Linked DNA regions of Homo sapiens: regions 2, 3, 4 and 5 are each reported to be linked to region 1. Evidence: microRNA targets listed by miRTarBase, many of them from high-throughput screens and not tested one by one. Region 1 holds a microRNA gene; each other region holds the end of a gene's coding sequence.

Evidence for each region. Region 1 holds the annotated microRNA hsa-miR-6880-5p (UGGUGGAGGAAGAGGGCAGCUC, at 1,560-1,581, opposite strand). A microRNA usually pairs through its seed, bases 2 to 8, with sites in the 3' UTR of a target mRNA and lowers its output. Matches are read on the target gene's strand: a 7mer-m8 pairs with bases 2 to 8, a 7mer-A1 pairs with bases 2 to 7 and ends in A, and an 8mer does both.
Region 2: the mRNA of C1orf174 is a reported target of hsa-miR-6880-5p. Seed matches in the 3' UTR shown: 7mer-m8 at 837-843.
Region 3: miRTarBase lists PGBD4 as a target of hsa-miR-6880-5p. Seed matches in the 3' UTR shown: 7mer-m8 at 3,322-3,328.
Region 4: miRTarBase lists EDAR as a target of hsa-miR-6880-5p. Seed matches in the 3' UTR shown: 7mer-m8 at 2,561-2,567.
Region 5: the mRNA of CLIC4 is a reported target of hsa-miR-6880-5p. Seed matches in the 3' UTR shown: 8mer at 3,061-3,068.

Annotation. Positions count from the first base shown.
Region 1 is chr12:124,335,657-124,339,656 of GRCh38, forward strand. It overlaps MIR6880 (microRNA 6880), which reads right to left and starts at 1,586; the gene lies at 1,525-1,586. It overlaps NCOR2 (nuclear receptor corepressor 2), which reads right to left. Exons shown (of 49, transcript NM_006312.6): 40 at 1,097-1,524. RefSeq lists a silencer at 798-978.
Region 2 is chr1:3,886,467-3,890,466 of GRCh38, reverse strand. It overlaps C1orf174 (chromosome 1 open reading frame 174), which reads left to right. Exons shown (of 4, transcript NM_207356.3): 4 at 394-1,334. The coding sequence ends at 507. Among named protein-coding and RNA genes, the nearest start is that of C1orf174, 12 kb to the left of the region's middle.
Region 3 is chr15:34,104,056-34,108,055 of GRCh38, reverse strand. PGBD4 (piggyBac transposable element derived 4) reads right to left here. Exons shown (of 1, transcript NM_152595.5): 1 at 1-4,000. The coding sequence ends at 3,767. Among named protein-coding and RNA genes, the nearest start is that of PGBD4, 4.0 kb to the right of the region's middle.
Region 4 is chr2:108,893,377-108,897,376 of GRCh38, reverse strand. EDAR (ectodysplasin A receptor) reads left to right here. Exons shown (of 12, transcript NM_022336.4): 12 at 148-2,906. The coding sequence ends at 470. It also overlaps a transcript of RANBP2 not described here. Among named protein-coding and RNA genes, the nearest start is that of EDAR, 94 kb to the left of the region's middle.
Region 5 is chr1:24,840,252-24,844,251 of GRCh38, reverse strand. CLIC4 (chloride intracellular channel 4) reads right to left here. Exons shown (of 6, transcript NM_013943.3): 6 at 1-3,479. The coding sequence ends at 3,315. Among named protein-coding and RNA genes, the nearest start is that of MIR6731, 77 kb to the left of the region's middle.

The DNA.
Region 1 (4,000 bases):
TCAGGCACCGGGCCCAGGGTTTCGGAGCCCGAGGGGCAGGGCTGCCCTCCCAGCTGGCTGGGACCCCGGGGGGGTCAAGGGGAACCCAAGCTAGGGGTAGGGTTTGGGCTCCCAAAGACAGTAAGGCAGAGAGGGGTGTTGGGGAGAGACAGGGAGGCCAAGGGAGAGGTGGAGAGAGATGCAGAGCCCGGGACAGAGACAGACAGAGAGGGAGACACAGAGAGAGATTAGGCAAGAAGGGACAGAGATGGGTTCAGGTGGTGGAGGCCGGGCGAGGCCAGCGTGAGATGGGGGCAGCATGGGTCTCTGGGGAAGGAGTGTGTGGGGCGGAGTGAGAAGTGGGGGTGTGGCTGGGAGTGACCCTGGGTCCCCGGGGCCCCGCCTGGGCTATAGCCTCGGCCATCCCAGTCCAACAGAGAGGAGCCATGAACTAGGGCCAAGGCAGGGGTCCAGAGGCAGAGGGCTCCCCTTTTTCTGGGGTACAGGGGCTGGGGACAGGGCAAGATGCAAGAGCCAGACCCAGCTCCTCCTCGACAGCGCAGGTCCCTGCCCCGCCTCAGCTTCTCCTTGCACCGCCTGCCTCCACTTCCCCCAGTCCGACAGCATCCAGGCAGCCGGCAGGTGGGGGCGTAGGCCCGAGCCCTCCCGCAGCCCCATCCCTGCTCCCTGGACACAGGCGCAAAGAGGGAGATGGGGGCGCAGTCGAAGTCAGAATCACAGATCCATTCATTAAAGAAAAAAAAGCAAAAATCCAAAAAAAAAAAACCATGGTAAAATGATGTGCAAATGATGAGCGCCCCCAAACCAGAGGGGCAGGCGCGGCCGGAGTAGTCGTCAGCGCGTGCAAACCGGCGAGGACGGATGGGCTTCAAAACAAAATACCAAAACCAACAACAAAAAAAACGGGGGCCAAAGTAAAAAGCAGAGATCTGAAAATATCTTTGGACCACGAGACGGGGTGGGTGCGGGCCGGAAGTCTTACCATCGCGAGGGGAGCCGTTGGCCAGCGCACCTCCTTCTCGCGCCCCTTTATCGTGAGCAATTTGACGCATGATAATCGCGTCTATGAAGGTGGCCGCTGTCAGGGTGGTCTTACCCAGAGAACGGAGTTCCAGTTCCTGGATGGAAAAGGGTTTACTTTGAGTCTTTTCCCGGTGCGGGTCCGAGGCCGAGGCAGGTGGCGCCGGCGGGTCCGGGCTGGCGTGGTGAGGTGCGAGGTTCTTCGCAGGGGTGCGGGCGATGGTGGCGTGGCCAGAGACAGGAGGCACTAGGGGCCGGGGCTCCGAGCCCTTGCTGGGGGAGGAGGCGGGCTCCAGCCCGGAGCGGGCTGGGGGCTTGGCGAGGAAGGCATGGCCGGTGTCTGCTCGGGGCCGCTCTGGCCGGGCGACCCGGGGGGCCTCCTTGGGCAGCAAGACGGGCTCCATGAGGGTAGGGTAGACCCCATCGAGGGTGCCGCCCAGTGGGCAGTGGGTGGCAGGTGGGAATGTGGCAGCCGGGCGAACGGGTGAGGAGGTGGAGGTGGACCTGGGGGAGGAGAGAAGGCGGTCAGGCAGTCATGGGAGCTGCCCTCTTCCTCCACCACCCTCGATGAGTCCCCATTGCCCTGGGATAAATCCACATCCCCTGCTGCTCCCAGAGTGAAACTGCCCTCCTGACTGTAACCTGCCAGACTCTGTGCGTCATGGTTTGACCCATCCCACTCATTCGTTCATTCATTCCTTGCATCATTCCAAAACTTCTGATTAAGCAGCTACTAGGTGCCAGGCACTGTTCTAGACACTGTGAATACAGCGGTCATAAAACGGATGCAAGCATCTTACCATCTAATTCAGAAAACAGACTACGATCACATTAACAGATATCCCAAGCTCTACAGAGCCTGGTAACTGTGTGGAGGTAGTCAATGAGGTACCAGGAGAGAACGGCAAGGAAGCTGAGGCAGGGCTAGGAGGTCTTCAGGGAGGGGGCACATGAGGGAGCTGGGCCTGCTCAGGATACCCGAAGAGCTAAAAAAGCCACGTGAGGAGTGAGAGAGCAAGGGGAAGGATGCCAGGGGGCGGCCAGGGTGGGCGTTGAGAACAGAGAAAGCTGCTGTTCCCAGCTCTGTGAGTGAGAAGCTGGGGCACAGCTGCCCCTGCACAGGGCTGGGGCTGGAACAGGAGCCGGCTGCTCCACCCACGTGGCCTTCCCGGAGCCCTGCGTTTCCATGGGGGCACCCCCATCTCTCGCTAACTCTACCTCCCAGAGCCTCATTCATGAGCGGGCAGTGGGCAGGCACTCGTTTTCTCCATTATATTTTTGAATCGGCTGTCACGGGCATATCCCACAGAGCCTGTGTGCGGAACCCTGCTCCCCACAGCCAGGGATTAGTGCTTCATGCACCTGCTGGGTCTGAGTCAGGGGTGACAAAGTCGCCACTGCTTTTGGGAAACGATGCCATTTTTCATAATTGAAATAATGATTAGGGGAGGTATGACTTCAGGCATCCAAGCGGCAAGTTGGGGCACAAGTACTTTTTTGAATGAAAATTCATTTTGGAGGAGTAAGTTGCCTCTAAATAGGTCCTGGAGGCTGAGTGCGGTGGCGCACGCCTGTAATCCCGGCACTTTGGGAGGCTGAGGCAGGCAGATCACTTGAGGTCAGAAGTTTGAGACCAGCCTGGCCAACGTGGTGAAACCGCATTTCTACTAAAAATATAAAAATTAGCCGGGTGTGGTTGCACGTGCCTGTAACTGCAGCTACTTGGGAGGCTGAGGCAGGAGAATCACTTGAACCCAGGAGGTGGAGGTTGCAGTAAGCAGAGATCGTACCACTGCACTCCAGCCTGGGCGACAGAGTACAACTCCATCAAAAAAAAAAAAAAAAAAAGGTTCCGGGCAGGGAAGGGTGTTGAGGTGTGACCCCACCCCCCTGGTGAAGCAGCTCTGCCCACAGTCTCTGGAGTGTGTGTCACCAGAGGGCACTCAGGGGCCTCTCCCATCTCAGAGAAACTTGGGACTTTGTCCAGGCAAGAGGGACACCTCTTTTCCTTGCTGGCCTTGCTAAATGTGGGGGACCGGGAAAGTCTTTCCTCACAGTCCCCATTCAGTCTCTCCCTCTCCACAGATTCTATTCTCAAACCAAACAACCTCCCCATCTACTCATCCCACCGCCCAACTCATCGTCCATCCACTGGGGCCTCCATCCACTCATCCCCACAATTACTCATCCAACCATCCATTCCATCATCCACCTAACCCTACCACCCACCCATCCACCCACCCACCCAGCTAACCCAGCCATCTATACTCTCACCCACCCACCTACCTCCCTAACCCTACCACCCACCCATCCACCCACCCAGCTAAGCCAGCGTCTATACTCTCACCCACCCACCTACCTACCTAACTCAGCCACCCACCCATCCATCCATCCACATGGCTAATCTGGCCATCTATCCTTCCTCCCACCTACCTACCTACTTAACCCAACCACCCACCCACCCATCCATCCATCCACCCAGTTAACCCAGCCATCTATCCTCTTACCCACCCATCTACCTACCTAACCCGATCTACCTACCACCCACCCACCCACCCACCCAGCTAAGCCAGTCATCTATCCTCTCACCCACCCACCTACCTACCTAACCCAACCACCTGCCCATCCATCCATCCATCCATCCATCCATCCATCCATCTGGCTAACTCAGTCATTTATCCTCTTAGCCACCTACCTACCTACCTACCTACCTACCTACCTACCTACCACCCACCCACCCACACAGCTAACTTGGCCATCTATCCTTTTGCCCATCTACTTACCTACCTAACGTGACCACCCACCCATCCATCCACCCAGCTAACCCAGCTATCTATCCTCTCACCCACCCACCTACCTACCTAACCCTATCACCCACCCATCCATCCATCCACCCACCCAGCTAACCTAACCATCTATCCTCCCACTGACCCACCTACCCACCTAACCCAACCACCTATCTGGCTAACCCGGCCATCTA
Region 2 (4,000 bases), not on the chromosome of region 1:
CATTAAACATAAACTAATCATTTTAACCCACGAGGAGAAAATGAAACCGTTGGCTAATTGGGGGCTCTCCCTGCATCTCCCGAGCTGAGAATCACTGCTCTCGGGAAAGGTGTGTTTCCATGAAATCAGGTTTGTGGTTTTTTTGAACATCCACCCCGCGCTTGCTGTTAATTTCTTTTGTTTTGAACCCAGCACCTTTCCTTCTCTTTACTCGATCAGCCCAGTAGGGAGGAAGTTCTCATCTAGAGGCGAGTGCTGGGACTCAGGCATTTTCACACGTCTAAAAGGGAAGAGCGCTCTGCGAGCCCTAGAGCCGCTGGGTGGGGCACATTGCAAATGCGGGTGCAGATATGTATTGCTCATGACTGAAGTCATGTTTTCTTCTCCACTAAGGACCTCCCACCTGCGTCTTCATCTTGTCCTTCAATGAGCAGACGAGAGTTCAGAAAAATGCATTTCAGAGCCAAAGATGATGATGATGACGACGACGATGATGCAGAAATGTAGGGGCCATACAAAATAATGTCCTTGAGTATTTAGTACCATTAACAATTTGACAATTTAGCACATTACAAGATTTATATAAAATGTATCTCCAAGAGAATGTCTTAATCAAACTTCAGAACTGACCCATCTAAGTCAATAGTGCAAAGCACCCAATACCTGTGGAGGATGTACTCATGGGAACTAAAACTCAAACCATCTTTGAGGTTGCAAAGCTGCTGTACTGTGCCAATGTCCTTTCTTTTTTTTTTTTTTTTTTTTTCCTTGGAGACAGAGTTTCTCTCTTGTCGCCCAGGCTGGAGTGCAATGGCGCAATCTCGGCTCACTGCAACCTCCACCTCCTGGGTTCAAGTGATTCTCCTGCCTCAGCCTCCTGAGTAGCTGGGATTACAGGCATACACCACCACACCCAGCTAGTTTTTGTATTATTAGTAGACACGGGGGTTTCTCCACGTTGGCCAGGCTGGTCTCAAACTCCTGACCTCGTGATACGCCCGCCTCAGCCTCCCAAAGTGCTGGGATTACAGGCGCGAGCCACCATGCCCGGCCAGTGTCCTTTCTTATACACGTACATACATGATGATGGCTTGAGTCAGCTGCAGGGCAGTGGGCTTAATGAGAGGGATCTTTGTAAAGACAGCTCTTCACTTCAGCTCAGTAGCTTTGGTCATAGGCAAGTTTGTTTTCCATTATCATAATTTGATGATTCTTGTGATGAATTCAATGCTAGTTCTTAAAGAACTCTTTTATTTCTGTATGTGGAGCTAATGTTTACCTTGGAAATTTTGCAAAATACATGTAAGAAAGAAATAAAATATATTTTGAAAATATTTTGAAAGCAGTCGTATGTTCGTAAAACCGGATTCCTTTCTCAATGCCTGGGAGCCGAGTAGAGGAAACACATCCTGCCTCAGTCTCATGCTCCCAAATGCTCATAAGGCTGGGTCCATCTTTTTTTTTTTTTTTTCTGAGACTGAGTCTCACTCTGTTGCCCAGGCTGGAGTGCAGTGGCACAATCTCGGCTCACTGCAACCTCTGCCTCCCGGGTTCAAGCGATTCTCCAGGCTCAGCCTCCCAGGTAGCTGGGATTACAGGCATGTACCACCATGCCTGGCTAATTTTTCGTATTTTTAGTAGAGACGGGGTTTCACCATGTTGGCCAGGCTGGTCTCGAACTCCTGGCCTCAGGTGATCCGCCTGCCTCGGCCTCCCACAGTGCTGGGATGACAGGCGTGAGCCACTACGCCCGGCACGGGTCCATCTTTTAGACCTGTTAACCACCGAGGCCCCCGGGACAGGGCCTCTTCCCTTCTCTCGAGTGTACTTCCACTCCCACTTTGCTGCAGAAGTGTCGGGCTTTCCTATCCTGTGTGGTGGAGACGGTCAGCCATCCAGCGAAGGCCATGCTCTCCTCCAGGCCATAGAGAGGTCCGTGTGCAGCTGCCTGACGAGAACTGCATTCCCCAGCCCCAGCGGCGTCAGGGAGCACCTCACCGTGTGTTCTCGCCCAGGGCAGTGGAGACAAGCCATTGGGAGTGCTCTCTCCATGGCCTCTTCCTGCCGCCACCTGCACATAGAAGCTGAGTGGACCAACCAGGAGCAAGCTGGGGTCCCCGGGTGACCAAGGACAAGGAGAAGTTGCCTGCGATGTGGGAAGACTGGGCCTTTTCATGAGGGAACAAGTGAGTCTTGCTGGTTTTGAGCTTTTATATGTTTCTGGTTTAATTACAAGAGCAGCTAGAATTAACCCTGTGAAAATGTCCTATGAAGCACAGGAAGGATTTTCTATAACAGATAAATTGGAAGCAAAATATAGTTGAAGTGCCCTGTAAGAAGTGTTTCCGCTCTTTACTATTCAAACACTGCCCTCCCTGAAGGTGTCATTCTCCACTTCTAATGTGATCCTTTTCTCATGAGCTGTGACTTTCACCTGTTTTGAATAACTTTGTGATTTATTGATCAACAAACTATAATTTGGAAATGTGGCTTATAAAGTCATTTTATGGTAGCCAGGGAAAATAATTTACAACTTTTGCCGGGCACAGTGGCTCACGCCTATAATCCCAACACTTTCAGAGGCTGAGGCAGGCAGATCACCTGAGGTCAGGAGTTCGAGAACAGCCTGGCCAACATAGTGAAACCCCGTCTCCACTAAAAATACAAAAATTAGCCGGGCGTGGTGGTGGGCGCCTATAATCCCAGCTACCTGGGAGGCTAAGGCAGGGGAATCACTTGAACCCAGGAAGCCGAGGTTGCAGTGAGCTGGGATCACGCCATTGCACTCCAGCCTGGGCAACAGAGCGAGACTCTGCCTCTAAAATAAATAAATAAATAAAGTACAACTTCAGATTGCTGCATGAATAACTATTAATAACAGCACCTGGCCGGGCGCGGTGGCTCACGCCTGTAATGCCAGCACTTTGGGAGGCTGAGGCGGGCGGATCATGAGGTCAGGAGATCGAGACCATCCTGGCTAACCTGGTGAAACCCCCTCTCTACTAAAAACACAAAAAAAAAAATTAACCGGGCGTGGTGGCAGGTGCCTGTAGTCCCAGCTACTCGGGAGGCTGAGGCAGGAGAATGGCGTGAACCCAGGAGGCGGAGCTTGTAGTGAGCCAAGATCACGCCACTGCACTCCAGCCTGGGTGACAGAGCGAGACTCCGTCTCAAAAAATTAAAAAAAAATTTTTTTTTTAAATGACAGCACCTATCCTGGTGGTGACGAGAATTTTGCCATCCTCTAAGCAGACTTCAGTGAGGTGCACTGTCCCAAATGATGATACACCTGCAGAGGAGACGCAGCACGCAGAGTGGAAAGTGTGTGTGTTCCTGGGGCCACCCCTATTCACTCACAGTGGTTAACCTGCACTAACAAGCACTGCCAGGTAGAAACACTTCCTAGTCTACATGTGGACTGTAGCCTGCACAGACCTAGGGGGACTGACCAAAGGGGGGCGAATGAGGGAATAAAAGATAAGATACAAAAGAGTGTATTTGTGCTCACGCACACCCCCTGGCGCAGGCCGACTGTGGCTCTGCCTACAGCGCTTCCTCCTGAGCTGCAGGAGGGCCATGTCTTGTGGTCGTGTTTGCTGCAGCTTTGCCGTCTGGATGGAGCCTGGCACTGAGCTGGTTGAGGCCGTCTGCAGGCCTTTACTGGGCTCTTCCCTTGGAAGCTTCTTACTGATGCCAGGACCTCCCAGCAGGTGACCCTCAGCCCCACAGATCACAGAATTCCACACTCTTAGCTCCTAGAACTTTTCTCCCTCTTGTGTGAGAATGCACAGACCACACACTCTTTCTTTGTTGCAGAGGTTCAGCCACCTTTTCTAACCTGAGACTCTGGGTGACATAACTCCTGATAGGTGATAGCTCTTTGTAACAATCACCAGCACCTTGCCCAGCCAAGGGCCCGGAAGCAAGAAAAAAACAACCAAAACACCATGTCACAGCCAGGAGAGCCTTGCACGCTTCACACACAGCTCAACAAGCCTGG
Region 3 (4,000 bases), not on the chromosome of region 1:
GGGAGACAGAGGTTGCAGTGAGCCAATATCGTGCCACTGCACTCCAGCCTGGCTGACAGAGCAAGACTCTGTCTCAAAACAAACAAGCAAGAAGAGCCAGGCATGGTGGCTCACGCCTGTAATTCCAGCACTTTGGGAGGCCGAGGCAGGTGGATCACCTGAGGTTAGGAGTTCGAGGTCAGCCTAGCCAACATGGTGAAACCCTGTCTCTACTAAAAATACAAAAATTAACTGGGTGTGGTGGCAGGTGCCTGTAATCCCAGCTACTCGGGAGGGTGAGACAGGAGAATCGTTTGAACCTGGGAGGCGGAGGTTACAGTGAGCCGAGATCACGCCACTGCACTCCAGCCTGGGCAACAAAGAGTGAAACTCTGTCTCAAAAAACAAACAAACAAACAAAAACTGAGATATCACTTTTAATTTATTTGCTTGGCAAAAATAACATTTGATAGCTCATTGTTGGTGAGGGTATGAAGAAGCAAGTTATCTTACACATTGCTGGTGAGAGTGAAAGTTGCAACAACTTCTGTGGAAGAAGATTTCACAATATCATCAAAATTACAAAGGCACATACTCTTTGATCTAGCAATTCTACTTTCTACTAGTACTAATTACGCTACATATATACACCTGTGGAAATCACATGGCAAAAGAAATTCACTTCAGCAAAATTAGGAATAGTAAAATAGGACACAATCTTAATGTTGCTCGATAGAGAATCAGTCCATCCATAAGCTGGAACATTTTGCAGCCATAAAAAGGAACTATGAAGCTTTTTATGTACGAATAAAGGATGATTTCCAAGATATATTTAGTAAAAAGAGCAAAGTGCGGAAGTGCATTTATAGTATACTTTGGAAATATGTATGTAAAACAGTACACATTATAGTTATATATAATCATATGTTAGGTAATACATTATTATATATTAGTGTATTTTATATTAAACAATTTATTTCTAGAATGTTATTTGTATATAAGTTAAATAAATATATATTTTGCCCCTTTTTTCACACAACTGGTAGCATACTATATATATACATATATATGTATATATGGATTTGTTTTTTTGTCTTTTTTTTTTTTTTTTTTTTTTTTAGAGACAGGGTCTGGCTATGTTGCCCAGGATGGAGTGCAATGGCTATTCACAGGCCTGCTATCATAGCACACTACAGCTTCAAATTCCTGGCCCTCCTGGCCTCAAGTGATCCTCCTGCTTCAACCTTCTGAGTAGCTGGGACTACAGGCATGCCACTGTGCCTGGCCTTATTTTTAATGTATATATTTTTCTGTAGATAGTTGACTATCTGTGGAAGAATACTCAGGAAAATGGCAACAGTGATTGCCTCTTGAGAATTGGGTGACTAGGGAGAGAAGTAGGTGGGAGATTTTTTTTGTATACTCATACCTTTTGAATATTGTACCATGTGCCTTTTGAATATTGTACCATGTGCCTTTTGAATATTGTACCATGTGACAAAGTCTATCAGATAAAGACCACCAAGGAACACACCTGCGGTCAAGTTAAGTTTATGAGCTTGCTGCTGTAAGGAAGACCCCACACCAGAGAAACCAAGGATATAACAGTAAGAGGGAACAGAAGGAAACTTTTTTATTTTTTGAGATGGAGTCTCACTCTGTCGCCAGGGCTGGAGTGCAGTGGTGCGATCTTGGCTCACTGCAACCTCTGCCTCCCGGGTTCAAGTGATTCTCCTGTCTCAGCCTCCCAAGTAGCTGGGATTACAGGCACCCACCACTATGCCCAGCTAATTTTTTTTTGTATTTTTAGTAGAGACAGGGTTTCACCATGTTGGCCAGGCTAGTCTCAAACTCCTGACCTTGTGATTCGCCCATCTCGGCCTTCCAAAGTGCTGGGATTACAGGCGTGAGCCACTGTGCCCGGCCCAGAAAGGAACTTTTACAAGATTTGGGCTTCTGTTGAATGATTGAGGAGAGTCTAGGGAAGCAAGGATTGGCTCTTGATTGGGTATCTCAGCAGTCTGTTCAGAGGCACGAGGAACAAAGCGAAGTCATTGGTAAGAAAGTGGTAATCACTGAAAAGAAGAAGGTTGTTAGGCATTTTGCAGGTGTGGTGTGGCCTTGGGAAGAAGTTTTCTGATGGCCTTGCCACTGGCCCTGTCTGTATCTAGTTGGTACATTACAGTCTGATTAAAATCAGCACTGATCTTTCCTTTCTCAGTCCTGAACTGACTTTTACTTTCTGACACTTGAATGTCTTATCTATTCAAAAACTAAGGCATATTTTAAAGTAAAAAGAATGAAAATAAACCTTCTCCACACACTTCTTGAGCCTAGATTACCAGTTCCCTAGCAAATAAGAAATTTATTTGGCAGACAAGAAAGTCAAGTGTGTGTGTGTGTGTGTGTGTTTCTGAGCAATGCTGCTCCTTCCGATGATCAAATATGAAGAAGTAACTATCTTCAGAAAAAAGATGAAGGCAAGTACCCCAGTACTGCAGTAGCTGATGCCAGGGAGACTGGAGTATAGGGGTGGCTCTGGGCATCATGTCCCCATCCCCTGCCAGGGCTGAGTACTTGGCTCTTGAATCTCTTTTTTCAATTGCTGTTACTCTTTCCCATGATGCTGACTCTAAGAGTGCACAAGGCTAAAACATGCATTGCTCTCAATAGGAATCTGTAGCAGAGACAGCGATGTTTAGGGCCAACAAAGATCTTGGGCAAGTCACTTCACTTTCCACCATAAAGAAAATGAAAGGACTGGAGCAAATGATGCCTGAAATCTTGGCTAAGGCCTCAGCAATCAACATTGGCAGCAATCAACCCCTGCCCTCCTCCCCAATACAACCTTGTTATGTTCACAGTAAAACAATCACAACAGGAAGAATAGTGTAGCATCAGATAAATTGTCTTCCAATCCTTTTCACTAGAGGCAACCCTTAGTTAACAGTTATGTGTTTTTCCAGCTATTTTTGTTCAGAGACAGTATCTCCTTCCCATTTTCCATTTAGGAAAAAAAAAAGTGTAGCTCGCTGCCTGCACTCATTTAGTTTTACATAAACACCCTCTTTGAGGCTGAAGCAAATCTGACTGATTTTCAATGTGAAAATAAAATATAAAAACTGTTCTTGGTGCTAGGCGCAGTGGCTCATGCCTATAATCCCAGGACTTTGTGAGGCCCAGATAGGCGGATCACCTGAGGTCGGGAGGTCAAGACTAGCCTGACCAACATGGATAAACCCAGTCTCTACTAAAAATGCAAAATTAGGTGGGTGTGGTGGCACATGCCTGTAATCCCAGCTACTAGGGAGGCTGAGGCACGAGAATCGCTTGAACCTGGGAGGTGGAGGTTACAGTGAGCCAATATCATGCCATTGCACTCCAGCCTGGGCAACAAGAGTGAAACTCCGTCTCAAAACAAAACAAAACAAAACAAAAACAACAAAACTGTTCTTGGAGTTATTTCTTTTTTTTGAGATGGAGTCTCGCTATGTCACCCAGGCTGGAGTGCAGTGGTGTGATCTCAGCTCACTGCAACCTCCGCCTCATGGGTTCAAGCAATTCTCCTGCCTCAGCCTCCCAAGTAGCTTGGATTACAGGCATGTGCCACCACATCCAGCTAATTGTTGTATTTTTAGTAGAGACAGGGTTTCACCATGTTGGCCAGGCTGGTCTTGAATTCCTGATCTCAGGTGATCCACCCAGGTCGGCCTCCCAATCTTGGAGTTATTTCTAAACAGAACTTGTCTCTAATCCTAATGGAACAGATGTGTATGATGATCGGTATTTAATAATTTTTTTTCGTGTGGTAAATTTCAAAGCACGGAACAACACAAAGCGGAACATCACATTCGGCACAAAAATAGCGCGTTTCTTTCCGGATCTTCTTGCCATCCTTGTCGTATTGGGAGCAGCAAATTTTGCAGCGACCAGTTGGATTCTGTTTCCCGGACGTTGCTGGTATGCTCTTGGGGAAATGTCTTCCAGACAGACGAAGAGGTGTGACATCATCGGAGCAAGG
Region 4 (4,000 bases), not on the chromosome of region 1:
CATTTGTTTTAGGTGGCTTTCTGCATGTTTTATAATTTTAAAAAAATTTTTTTCAAATAATTTTTATTTCATTTAAATAATTTTTCAGTGTTGACCTTCTATTGACTGTGACTTGCAACATCTAACTGTGGCCATTGGTGTCTGTAGGTCTTAGCCCCACGGAGCTGCCATTTGATTGCCTCGAGAAGACTAGCCGAATGCTCAGCTCCACGTACAACTCTGAGAAGGCTGTTGTGAAAACGTGGCGCCACCTCGCCGAGAGCTTCGGCCTGAAGAGGGATGAGATTGGGGGCATGACAGACGGCATGCAACTCTTTGACCGCATCAGCACGGCAGGCTACAGCATCCCTGAGCTACTCACAAAACTGGTGCAGATTGAGCGGCTGGATGCTGTGGAGTCCTTGTGTGCAGACATACTGGAGTGGGCGGGGGTTGTGCCACCTGCCTCCCAGCCACATGCTGCATCCTGAAAAGCATGCCTGTGGGCTGTCCTCCCAGGACAAGCCAAGGAGCCAACGAGGGCTCTGGAGCTGTGAGTGGTGCCAAAAGACTGCCAAGAATCAAGGCTTTTGTGATATGTCACCGTATGCCTTAGGATGTTCAAGGAGCCAGACGAAATAAGGCCTGTCTTCCAATTTAACCAAAGATAAAGGACTAGAGCCGGGATACTTTCAGATGCTCGCCTGTACCTCACCAGGCAGAGTAAATATCTACTCACTCATACAGCCAGCCCACCAGCCCACCATTAACTCACTGAACAATGAGACAATGTTGAGGACTCAAATGAATCAAACCCCGTGGGAATGACAGAAGTGAAGAATCTGGTCCCTGTCTTTAAGGAGTTTGCACTCCAGTAGAAGACAGAAGGAACGTATGTTTACAAACCACTTCACTGGAAGACGTCAAACAAGCTGAATGAAGGGGCGCTTAGAAAACGTTAATAGAAGTTCTAAGCGGGAGATGACTCCCTACTGGGATGATGAAGGATGGCATCCTAGTGAAGAAGCAGCTCAAACATTTTGATAAAATGGCAACAAAATGCAGACACCCTGCTCCAGGTATTATTTCAGGTTTAGTACAAGTCTGTTAATACCCTATGTGGTTTCATTAGGATAACTTTTTACCTATCCTTGAGGTCATCCATATTCTTACAGGCCTTCCAGTCAATAATGGAAGAGCTCACTCTATACAAAACCAATATGCAAGGCATGTGTTTGTCCAAGCAATTGGATGTGTGCAGTAGCCAATTTCATTTACTGCATTACTCTTTGGCCTGGGAACCCTGTGGTCTGCACTACATGTGAATGGCCTTCCACTTCAGTCTTAGGCAGATTTGACCTTTTAGGGGCAGCAATGCTGAAGGACACAGCAATTTAAATTATAATGTGTCAGGCTGTGTTTTCACTTCAAACATGTATGAGTAGTCAGCTGTAATTAGAGAAATGATGACTTCCTAAGAGTTCAGCCACGCATAATTCTAGATTTCAAGAGCATCTAAGACTTGTGGATTAGCCTCATGGCATGAGAGTTTCAGACTCAGCCTTCTGAGCCAGTCAGGGAAAGTGGAGTTCTGCAGCGCAAATGAGAGCCTGGGCTTGATGTCGAGGGAGCTGGCTTCTAGTTGTGCCACCTTGGGCCTTGTCTTTTCCTCTCTCTGCCTCAGTTTCTCGTCTGCCAATGAGATGTTAGTTAGTGATTCTATAATTGGGGCAGGTAGGGTTCAGGTGAGCAAAAAGAAAGTGGAGCTATAGGAAATGCCAGGCCTTTGAGGTGCTCTATGGAAGTCAACACAGTGTGGTTTGTCCATTTAAATGGGAATAAAAACAGAAAAACTCAGACTTGGCATTTTCACAATAACTGCAATGGTTTGACATAACATTTATAGGCAGAAAGTTAATAAACTGGCATTGTTCTTGGCATATTATTGTACTATCCCTGTAACTGCCAAGAGCTCAGGAGCCAGGCTAGTGATCACACCAGGGGTTAGAGTTCACTGCTGAACTCCCTGATGGCAGGTCTGTGTTTATTACTACATTAAAACAAAGTCTCTGACTTATAAAGCGAGGTTGTAAAAATTACAAGTTGCATGACTGAAAAAATGCTTTAGGGGGAAAATCAGTCATATCTTTAACACCAACAAGCAATTTCCCACCAACGAATGTAGTACATACTGTGAGAGGATCATAATGAGGTCCTGAATATTTAATATCATCATTTACTGTGTCTGTTTGCTGCTGTTTTTCGAACCTATTTGGTTTACCCTGCAAGCTAAATACTCCACGGCAGAGCTTAATTATCCTTTTAATTCCTCTTTGAAATCCTGTGGTGCCCCCTTCCCCCTGCCTTGTGATGATGATGAGTGAGTCTCCCCTTAATTAGACTGCAAATGTCACTTGTGATGAGTGTGCCATTCCAGGATAACAGCTTGCACCCTCCTCAGAATGTTTTCAGCGAAAGAGTGGGGTGGCTGTTCTCTGCTCCTGGTGCTTTGGCCTCATTTCACACTATTAGAATTCTGGGGCTGTAAGGCCAGCCAGTGTCAGCTCATGTTCCATTGGCTCTCCACCTGCCATTTTTAGGGAGCTATTCCTTATATAGTTACAAATTCCCTTGTCATTTACTTATTTGGAAACATGGGATTTACTCTGACAAGCTTTAGCCTATGTTATGGGATTCAGAACAATGAGATCATAATAATTCTCACTGACCAAAGCTGGGACTCCATCCTGCCATTTTTGTGTGGAGATATTCATAATTCTGCAATACTTTAAAACATTTAGAAAACACCCCAGGGTAGGTCTGTGGCCCTTAGACAGTGAAGTCTTAATTGTCAATATTATTTTTGTCTAATTCTGTATATATATAACTTATTATATTTTATAATCTCAATAAACACATTAATAAGATTTATAGACTACCGTAATGTGAGCTCTCTTTGTATTTGGGGTGGTGGGTCGGGGGGTGAGTGGGGAAGGTTCTGATTGCTCTGTTCCTGGTTATTGCCCTATGTATGATGAGACTGTAGGATTGCAACCAGCTATAAACAAAGTGCCTAAAATGTTATGGCCTGGGACATTCACTAGGCAGAAGCAAACATTACAAAGAGATCATGTAAAAACCACCTGGAGCATTGCTTTCCAAGTTGCCATCATTAGCTCATAAGGCATTGTATCACTTATCTATTTCTGTGTAACAAACTGTCTTGTCTTAAAATTCAATGGCTTAAAGCAACAGTCATTTATTATCATAGCTCGGGGGTTAGTAGGGGGTCAGTCAGCTGACTTAGGTTGGGCTCAGTTGAATGTGGGTCAACTGGGGCCTCTGTCTGTTGGAATACCTTAACTGGGGCAGCTCTACTCCATCATCTCTGTCAACCTAGATAGATAACAGAGAGAGGCTCTCTAAAAGAAAGAAAATGATATGTATTGGGGAATAGGGCATTGCAATGGGAATACATGTGCCATAGTAAACTATGCGTGTTTTTGAAGAGGTAAAGGAAGACAATGGTTCTTAGAGGAAAATAAGGAGGATTACATAATTATTTTGAGACAATTATCCTTGGCTACAAGGATAATAAGGGTGGTGCCAGTCCAGGGTTGGACAGGGAGTTGCTGGGCAGAGGTCCTTGCAGGAGTCTTTGTGTGTGTTTAAGATTGTCATGGCCTTTGTGCAAGGTTTTCGTTTTTTCAGTCTTGTGATGGCTCTTGTTATCAGTGATTTATGCAGGGAGAACCCTTCTTTCCTGGCCTTCCATGACTCTATTTGTCAGTTTTGTTTTGTTTTTTAAGCACAAGTGACTCCTTTATAATTCTGACAACTTCCACATTTCCCCCATTTGATCAAGATCTTTATCAGAAAGCATCCCCAGTGAGTCATCCCATATTATTCCTTCGTGCCAGGATAGACCTGTCCTAGGTGGCTGGTCTGGTCTCACATTGGAGGGATTTGATGGTGACTAGGAGTCAGTGTCAAAACCCTTTAGCCATGTTTGAACAAATGG
Region 5 (4,000 bases), not on the chromosome of region 1:
TTTATTTTTTAATACAATAGCTGCCAGCAATATACTGGTGCTGATGTTCCAAAGATAAAAGAAAATACATGCATTCTATAATAAGCTTTCATTTGCCTGTTCAAGAAATTATAAAGAAAATACTCCAATTCTGTTCAACATTACGGCTTGAGGAGTTGAAATTTTTCCATGATAAAAATATACTTTGTGTGGCCCAAACCTTGACTATTTATAAAGGATGGAGTTTTTAAAAGCCCACATGTATCAATAATGGATGCTCCCCTCTCTTTGAATTAAATGCTTAAATTCAAATTAATGCAAGAAATTGGTGAATCATTAAATGATGAAATTTGTATCAAAATGTTCATGAAAAAATACATTTCTATTTCCTCTACATTTTTACTTTGTAGTTATTTTCTAAATGGGTTTAAGGGCACAGAAATAAATGCTATCTACATGCAACTCTGGAGAGATTCAAAACACAACAGAAGTTAACATGCCTAAATCCTAGAGTTGATCCATTTAGTGTAAGAATAAATGTCAGAAATCTCTTAATTGTATACAGATTGCTCAAGGATTTAAAGATAAATTGTGAAAGCCAAAATTACCAAGAAATAAAATCTTATTTGAATTTTATCACAAAAGTTTACAGTCCTAGTAAAAGACAACAGAACTGTATAGAATATCTGCATCTACATCAAAAAAGGGAAGTTTTATCAACTAGAATAGAGAGCTTTCCAACTGCTGAATACAAAAATTTCTCAGAATCTCTTGGAAAACAGATCCATTCAGACTCCAATCTCCTCACTGAAGTAAAACACAAAAGGTGTTTAAATGAAGGGGAATGGATGTTAGTTGTAAAAATAAAATCAGATTATTTCCATTATGGCAATTCATATACTGCATGAACTGTCTACCATGAAAACTTTATGTCCCAAATTTCTCAAGATGTTAAACTATGCTCTTTCCACAAACATACAATGGGGTTAAAGCATGTTGCTGGGTCGTCCTTTTTACTAGCTAGCTTTTGTCCATTTACCAATTTCCATTTCATTTGACTAACTTCCCTGATAAAGTGGTATCTGTGTTTCTACAGAGAAAAATAATTCTGTCTTCATCAAAATCACAATAGACATGCCTTCCTAGAACATTTAGAGGGATGGCCAGGTGTAATCACTGGTTTAATAAAAACAGGAGAATATCCAAAATGAAAATATTTGAGTTTCAAAATGAATTTTCATCACTGTATTCTGAAGAATGTAGTTCTTTCCTCTTGTTAGCCCTCCACCTCGCACCACTCAGTCCACCATTCACTGGAAAGAACAAACCTCACTGCTCTTGAATCTTTTTTATACTTTAAGCTATGAGGCAAGGTTCAGAATCACCAGAATGAATCCCAAGTTGCCACTATTTAAAAAGTAGGTGAAGAATGATAATGCCTGCCTGTGTACTGGTGCAGATGGGACATTTTCACCCACTAAAACCACTGCAAAATAATTTCTCAATAGATAACTGAATAGTGCATCTTCCTTGAACCAGATAAATCATACAATATTTAATTACCAAAAAAAAACCAAGCGGGTACTCAAACTTTTGATAAGCAATAAAGAGTTCTAAGAAAGGTAAGGCAAAGAATCTTCCTGAGCCAAATGGATACAACATGGAGATTTTCTTATCTTTCATACTAAGCTAATTAATGATAGGCTCAAAAAATGCAGTATACTTATAAAAAGCCGCTTTCATAAAGCCAGTGCTTACTAAATGTTAGCATATCAAAGTGGGAGAAACACTGCCATTTTAAAGCAATAAACTTAAAATTTCAAGAAACAGCCTATGAGAAATAGCACTTCCTATACAAATTAGGTATAAAAAAATTACCAAAAATGTATTATAGTCACAATCACAGTCTTTGGAGTAGTACGTAGAAAGTCTGGTTTTGCTTTTGTCTTTTAAAAAAGAGTAAATACATAGCAAAGTTTTATTTTCAGCAAGTTCATCCTCCTGTTAGAACACAAATAATTCCTGGTTTAGGGCTTCAATTAAAAAAAACCCCGAAAAACAAAACAAAAACATGCAGAGTGCTATTCCTCAACATGGCTGTTGGAAAATTTAACTCCAGGAAGTGCAATGAGTGAGATCAGGCAAAACTACAGTAAATACACACTCACCATAACTATAACTTAGTCCCAAAGGAATGAACAATCCTCTATACAAGGTAAATGGGGTGAAATGAGAAAATTGGTGACCTGTGTTTTATCTTTCTTTTATATAGGATGGATAACGCATTCTTTAGGTCATCTACATTAAATGTACTTTAGAAACAAAAATTTACTTGATATTTTGACAAACCCACCCTTCATTCCTTAGGTTAATTTCTGTGTTAATTTTTACATTACTAATCATTGTACTGCTATAGCTAAGTCAACTAAAAATCAGTTATGTAGTGTTGCTCAACAGATGTACAAATAGCAAGCTCTATGATTACGTAAAAACAAGCTTTTTAAAATAAAGAATGCAATAAAGTTCCAAATGAATGGCACAGGGCAAAACACATATAACAAACGTATTTAGACAGAGTATCAGGTGCCCATCAGTTTCTCTTCTAAAGATAAAATGCTTGAGGAAGGTCTTGAGAAAACCCTCACTCCCTCTAAACTTTTAGCTTCTACATGGTGTCAGATGTTACAATTGGTATGAAGGATAAATGCTTTTAGGCAAAAGTAAAAATCTATCTACAAAGCAATATAGCAAAATCTGTAGTGACTTTTGTAGAAAGCTCTCTTCTCTGGTGGTAATATTCGTTAGTACATATCCAGGATAGACTAAATTGAAACAATATTTCTGATACAGTAGCAATCCTTTCATATACTCTTACTAAATATTACAAAATTCCAAAAAATACATAAATATTTCTTGTACCATGCATTATGCACCAGTTTGGGGCTGCCTGATAAAGTCGTGGCTACTATTTTTAACAATTAAACATTGCACCTCAAAAGTTCTGCCATCTATACACAGTGAATGGACACAATGGTGAGGGCTCCTGAGAGATGGCAAGCTACCTCTAAAGTGAAAAGTTTGTGGTGGAGTGTCTCCAAATTAAAGAGAGGGGAACCCGGGTAGGGGAGGTAGCCAGGGTAAAGGATTTTAAAATAATACTGCTTAGGAGTGTATATTTTAAGATAACTACTATACCTTGTCTATCCTTGATCCTAATCTTCAATAACTGCATGTTCGTGCAAAATACAATTTCTGCTCTACAGGAAGGAGTAGCCTGTTAGGAAAAGCGTATTCTTAGGGGAAGACATGAAGACATCTCTTTTACAAACGCGATTTTACTTGGTGAGTCTTTTGGCTACATCACTATATGCTATTTCAACCTCCTTATCACTGGGACAGGTATTGGTGAACTCGTCCCTACTGTATGCATTAGTTAGGTATCTCCAGATGCCAGTCATTTCTTTTGGAATATCAAAGTTGCGATATTTTTTGGCCACCACCTGAAATACAAAGAGATCAAAAGTTAACAGACTTATTTCCACGTCTTGTAAACTAGACATATCTCTGATTTTGGAGCAAATAATTAATGCTCTAAATCTTTGAGAACTGCTTCTATATGAAAAAAAGTCCATCACCATCATTCTAACCAGAGTTTTAAATAATGACCAAGACTGCAAGCTACACCAGGGATTTAGAAGTGTGACAGTGACTGCAAATAACTGCCTTGGACATCCAGAAAGACAGCCAAGTATAATCACTGGAAAATACTTCACAACACACATATGCTATTTTAGATCTGTTTTTGTTATCTTAGGTCTTTATTTACAACTAGCGCTTATTATTATTCTATTTAACAATGTGCCCAGCCCAGTGTCTCATATAATAAATGCTCAATACTTTTTGCCTTCAATAGAGAAAGCAAGGTGTGATCACAGAACAGAATTTGATAACATAAGTCAGTGTGGCAAACTCCAATTCAAAGTCACGCATTATATCTTTGAATTTGTATGCAGTCACAGAA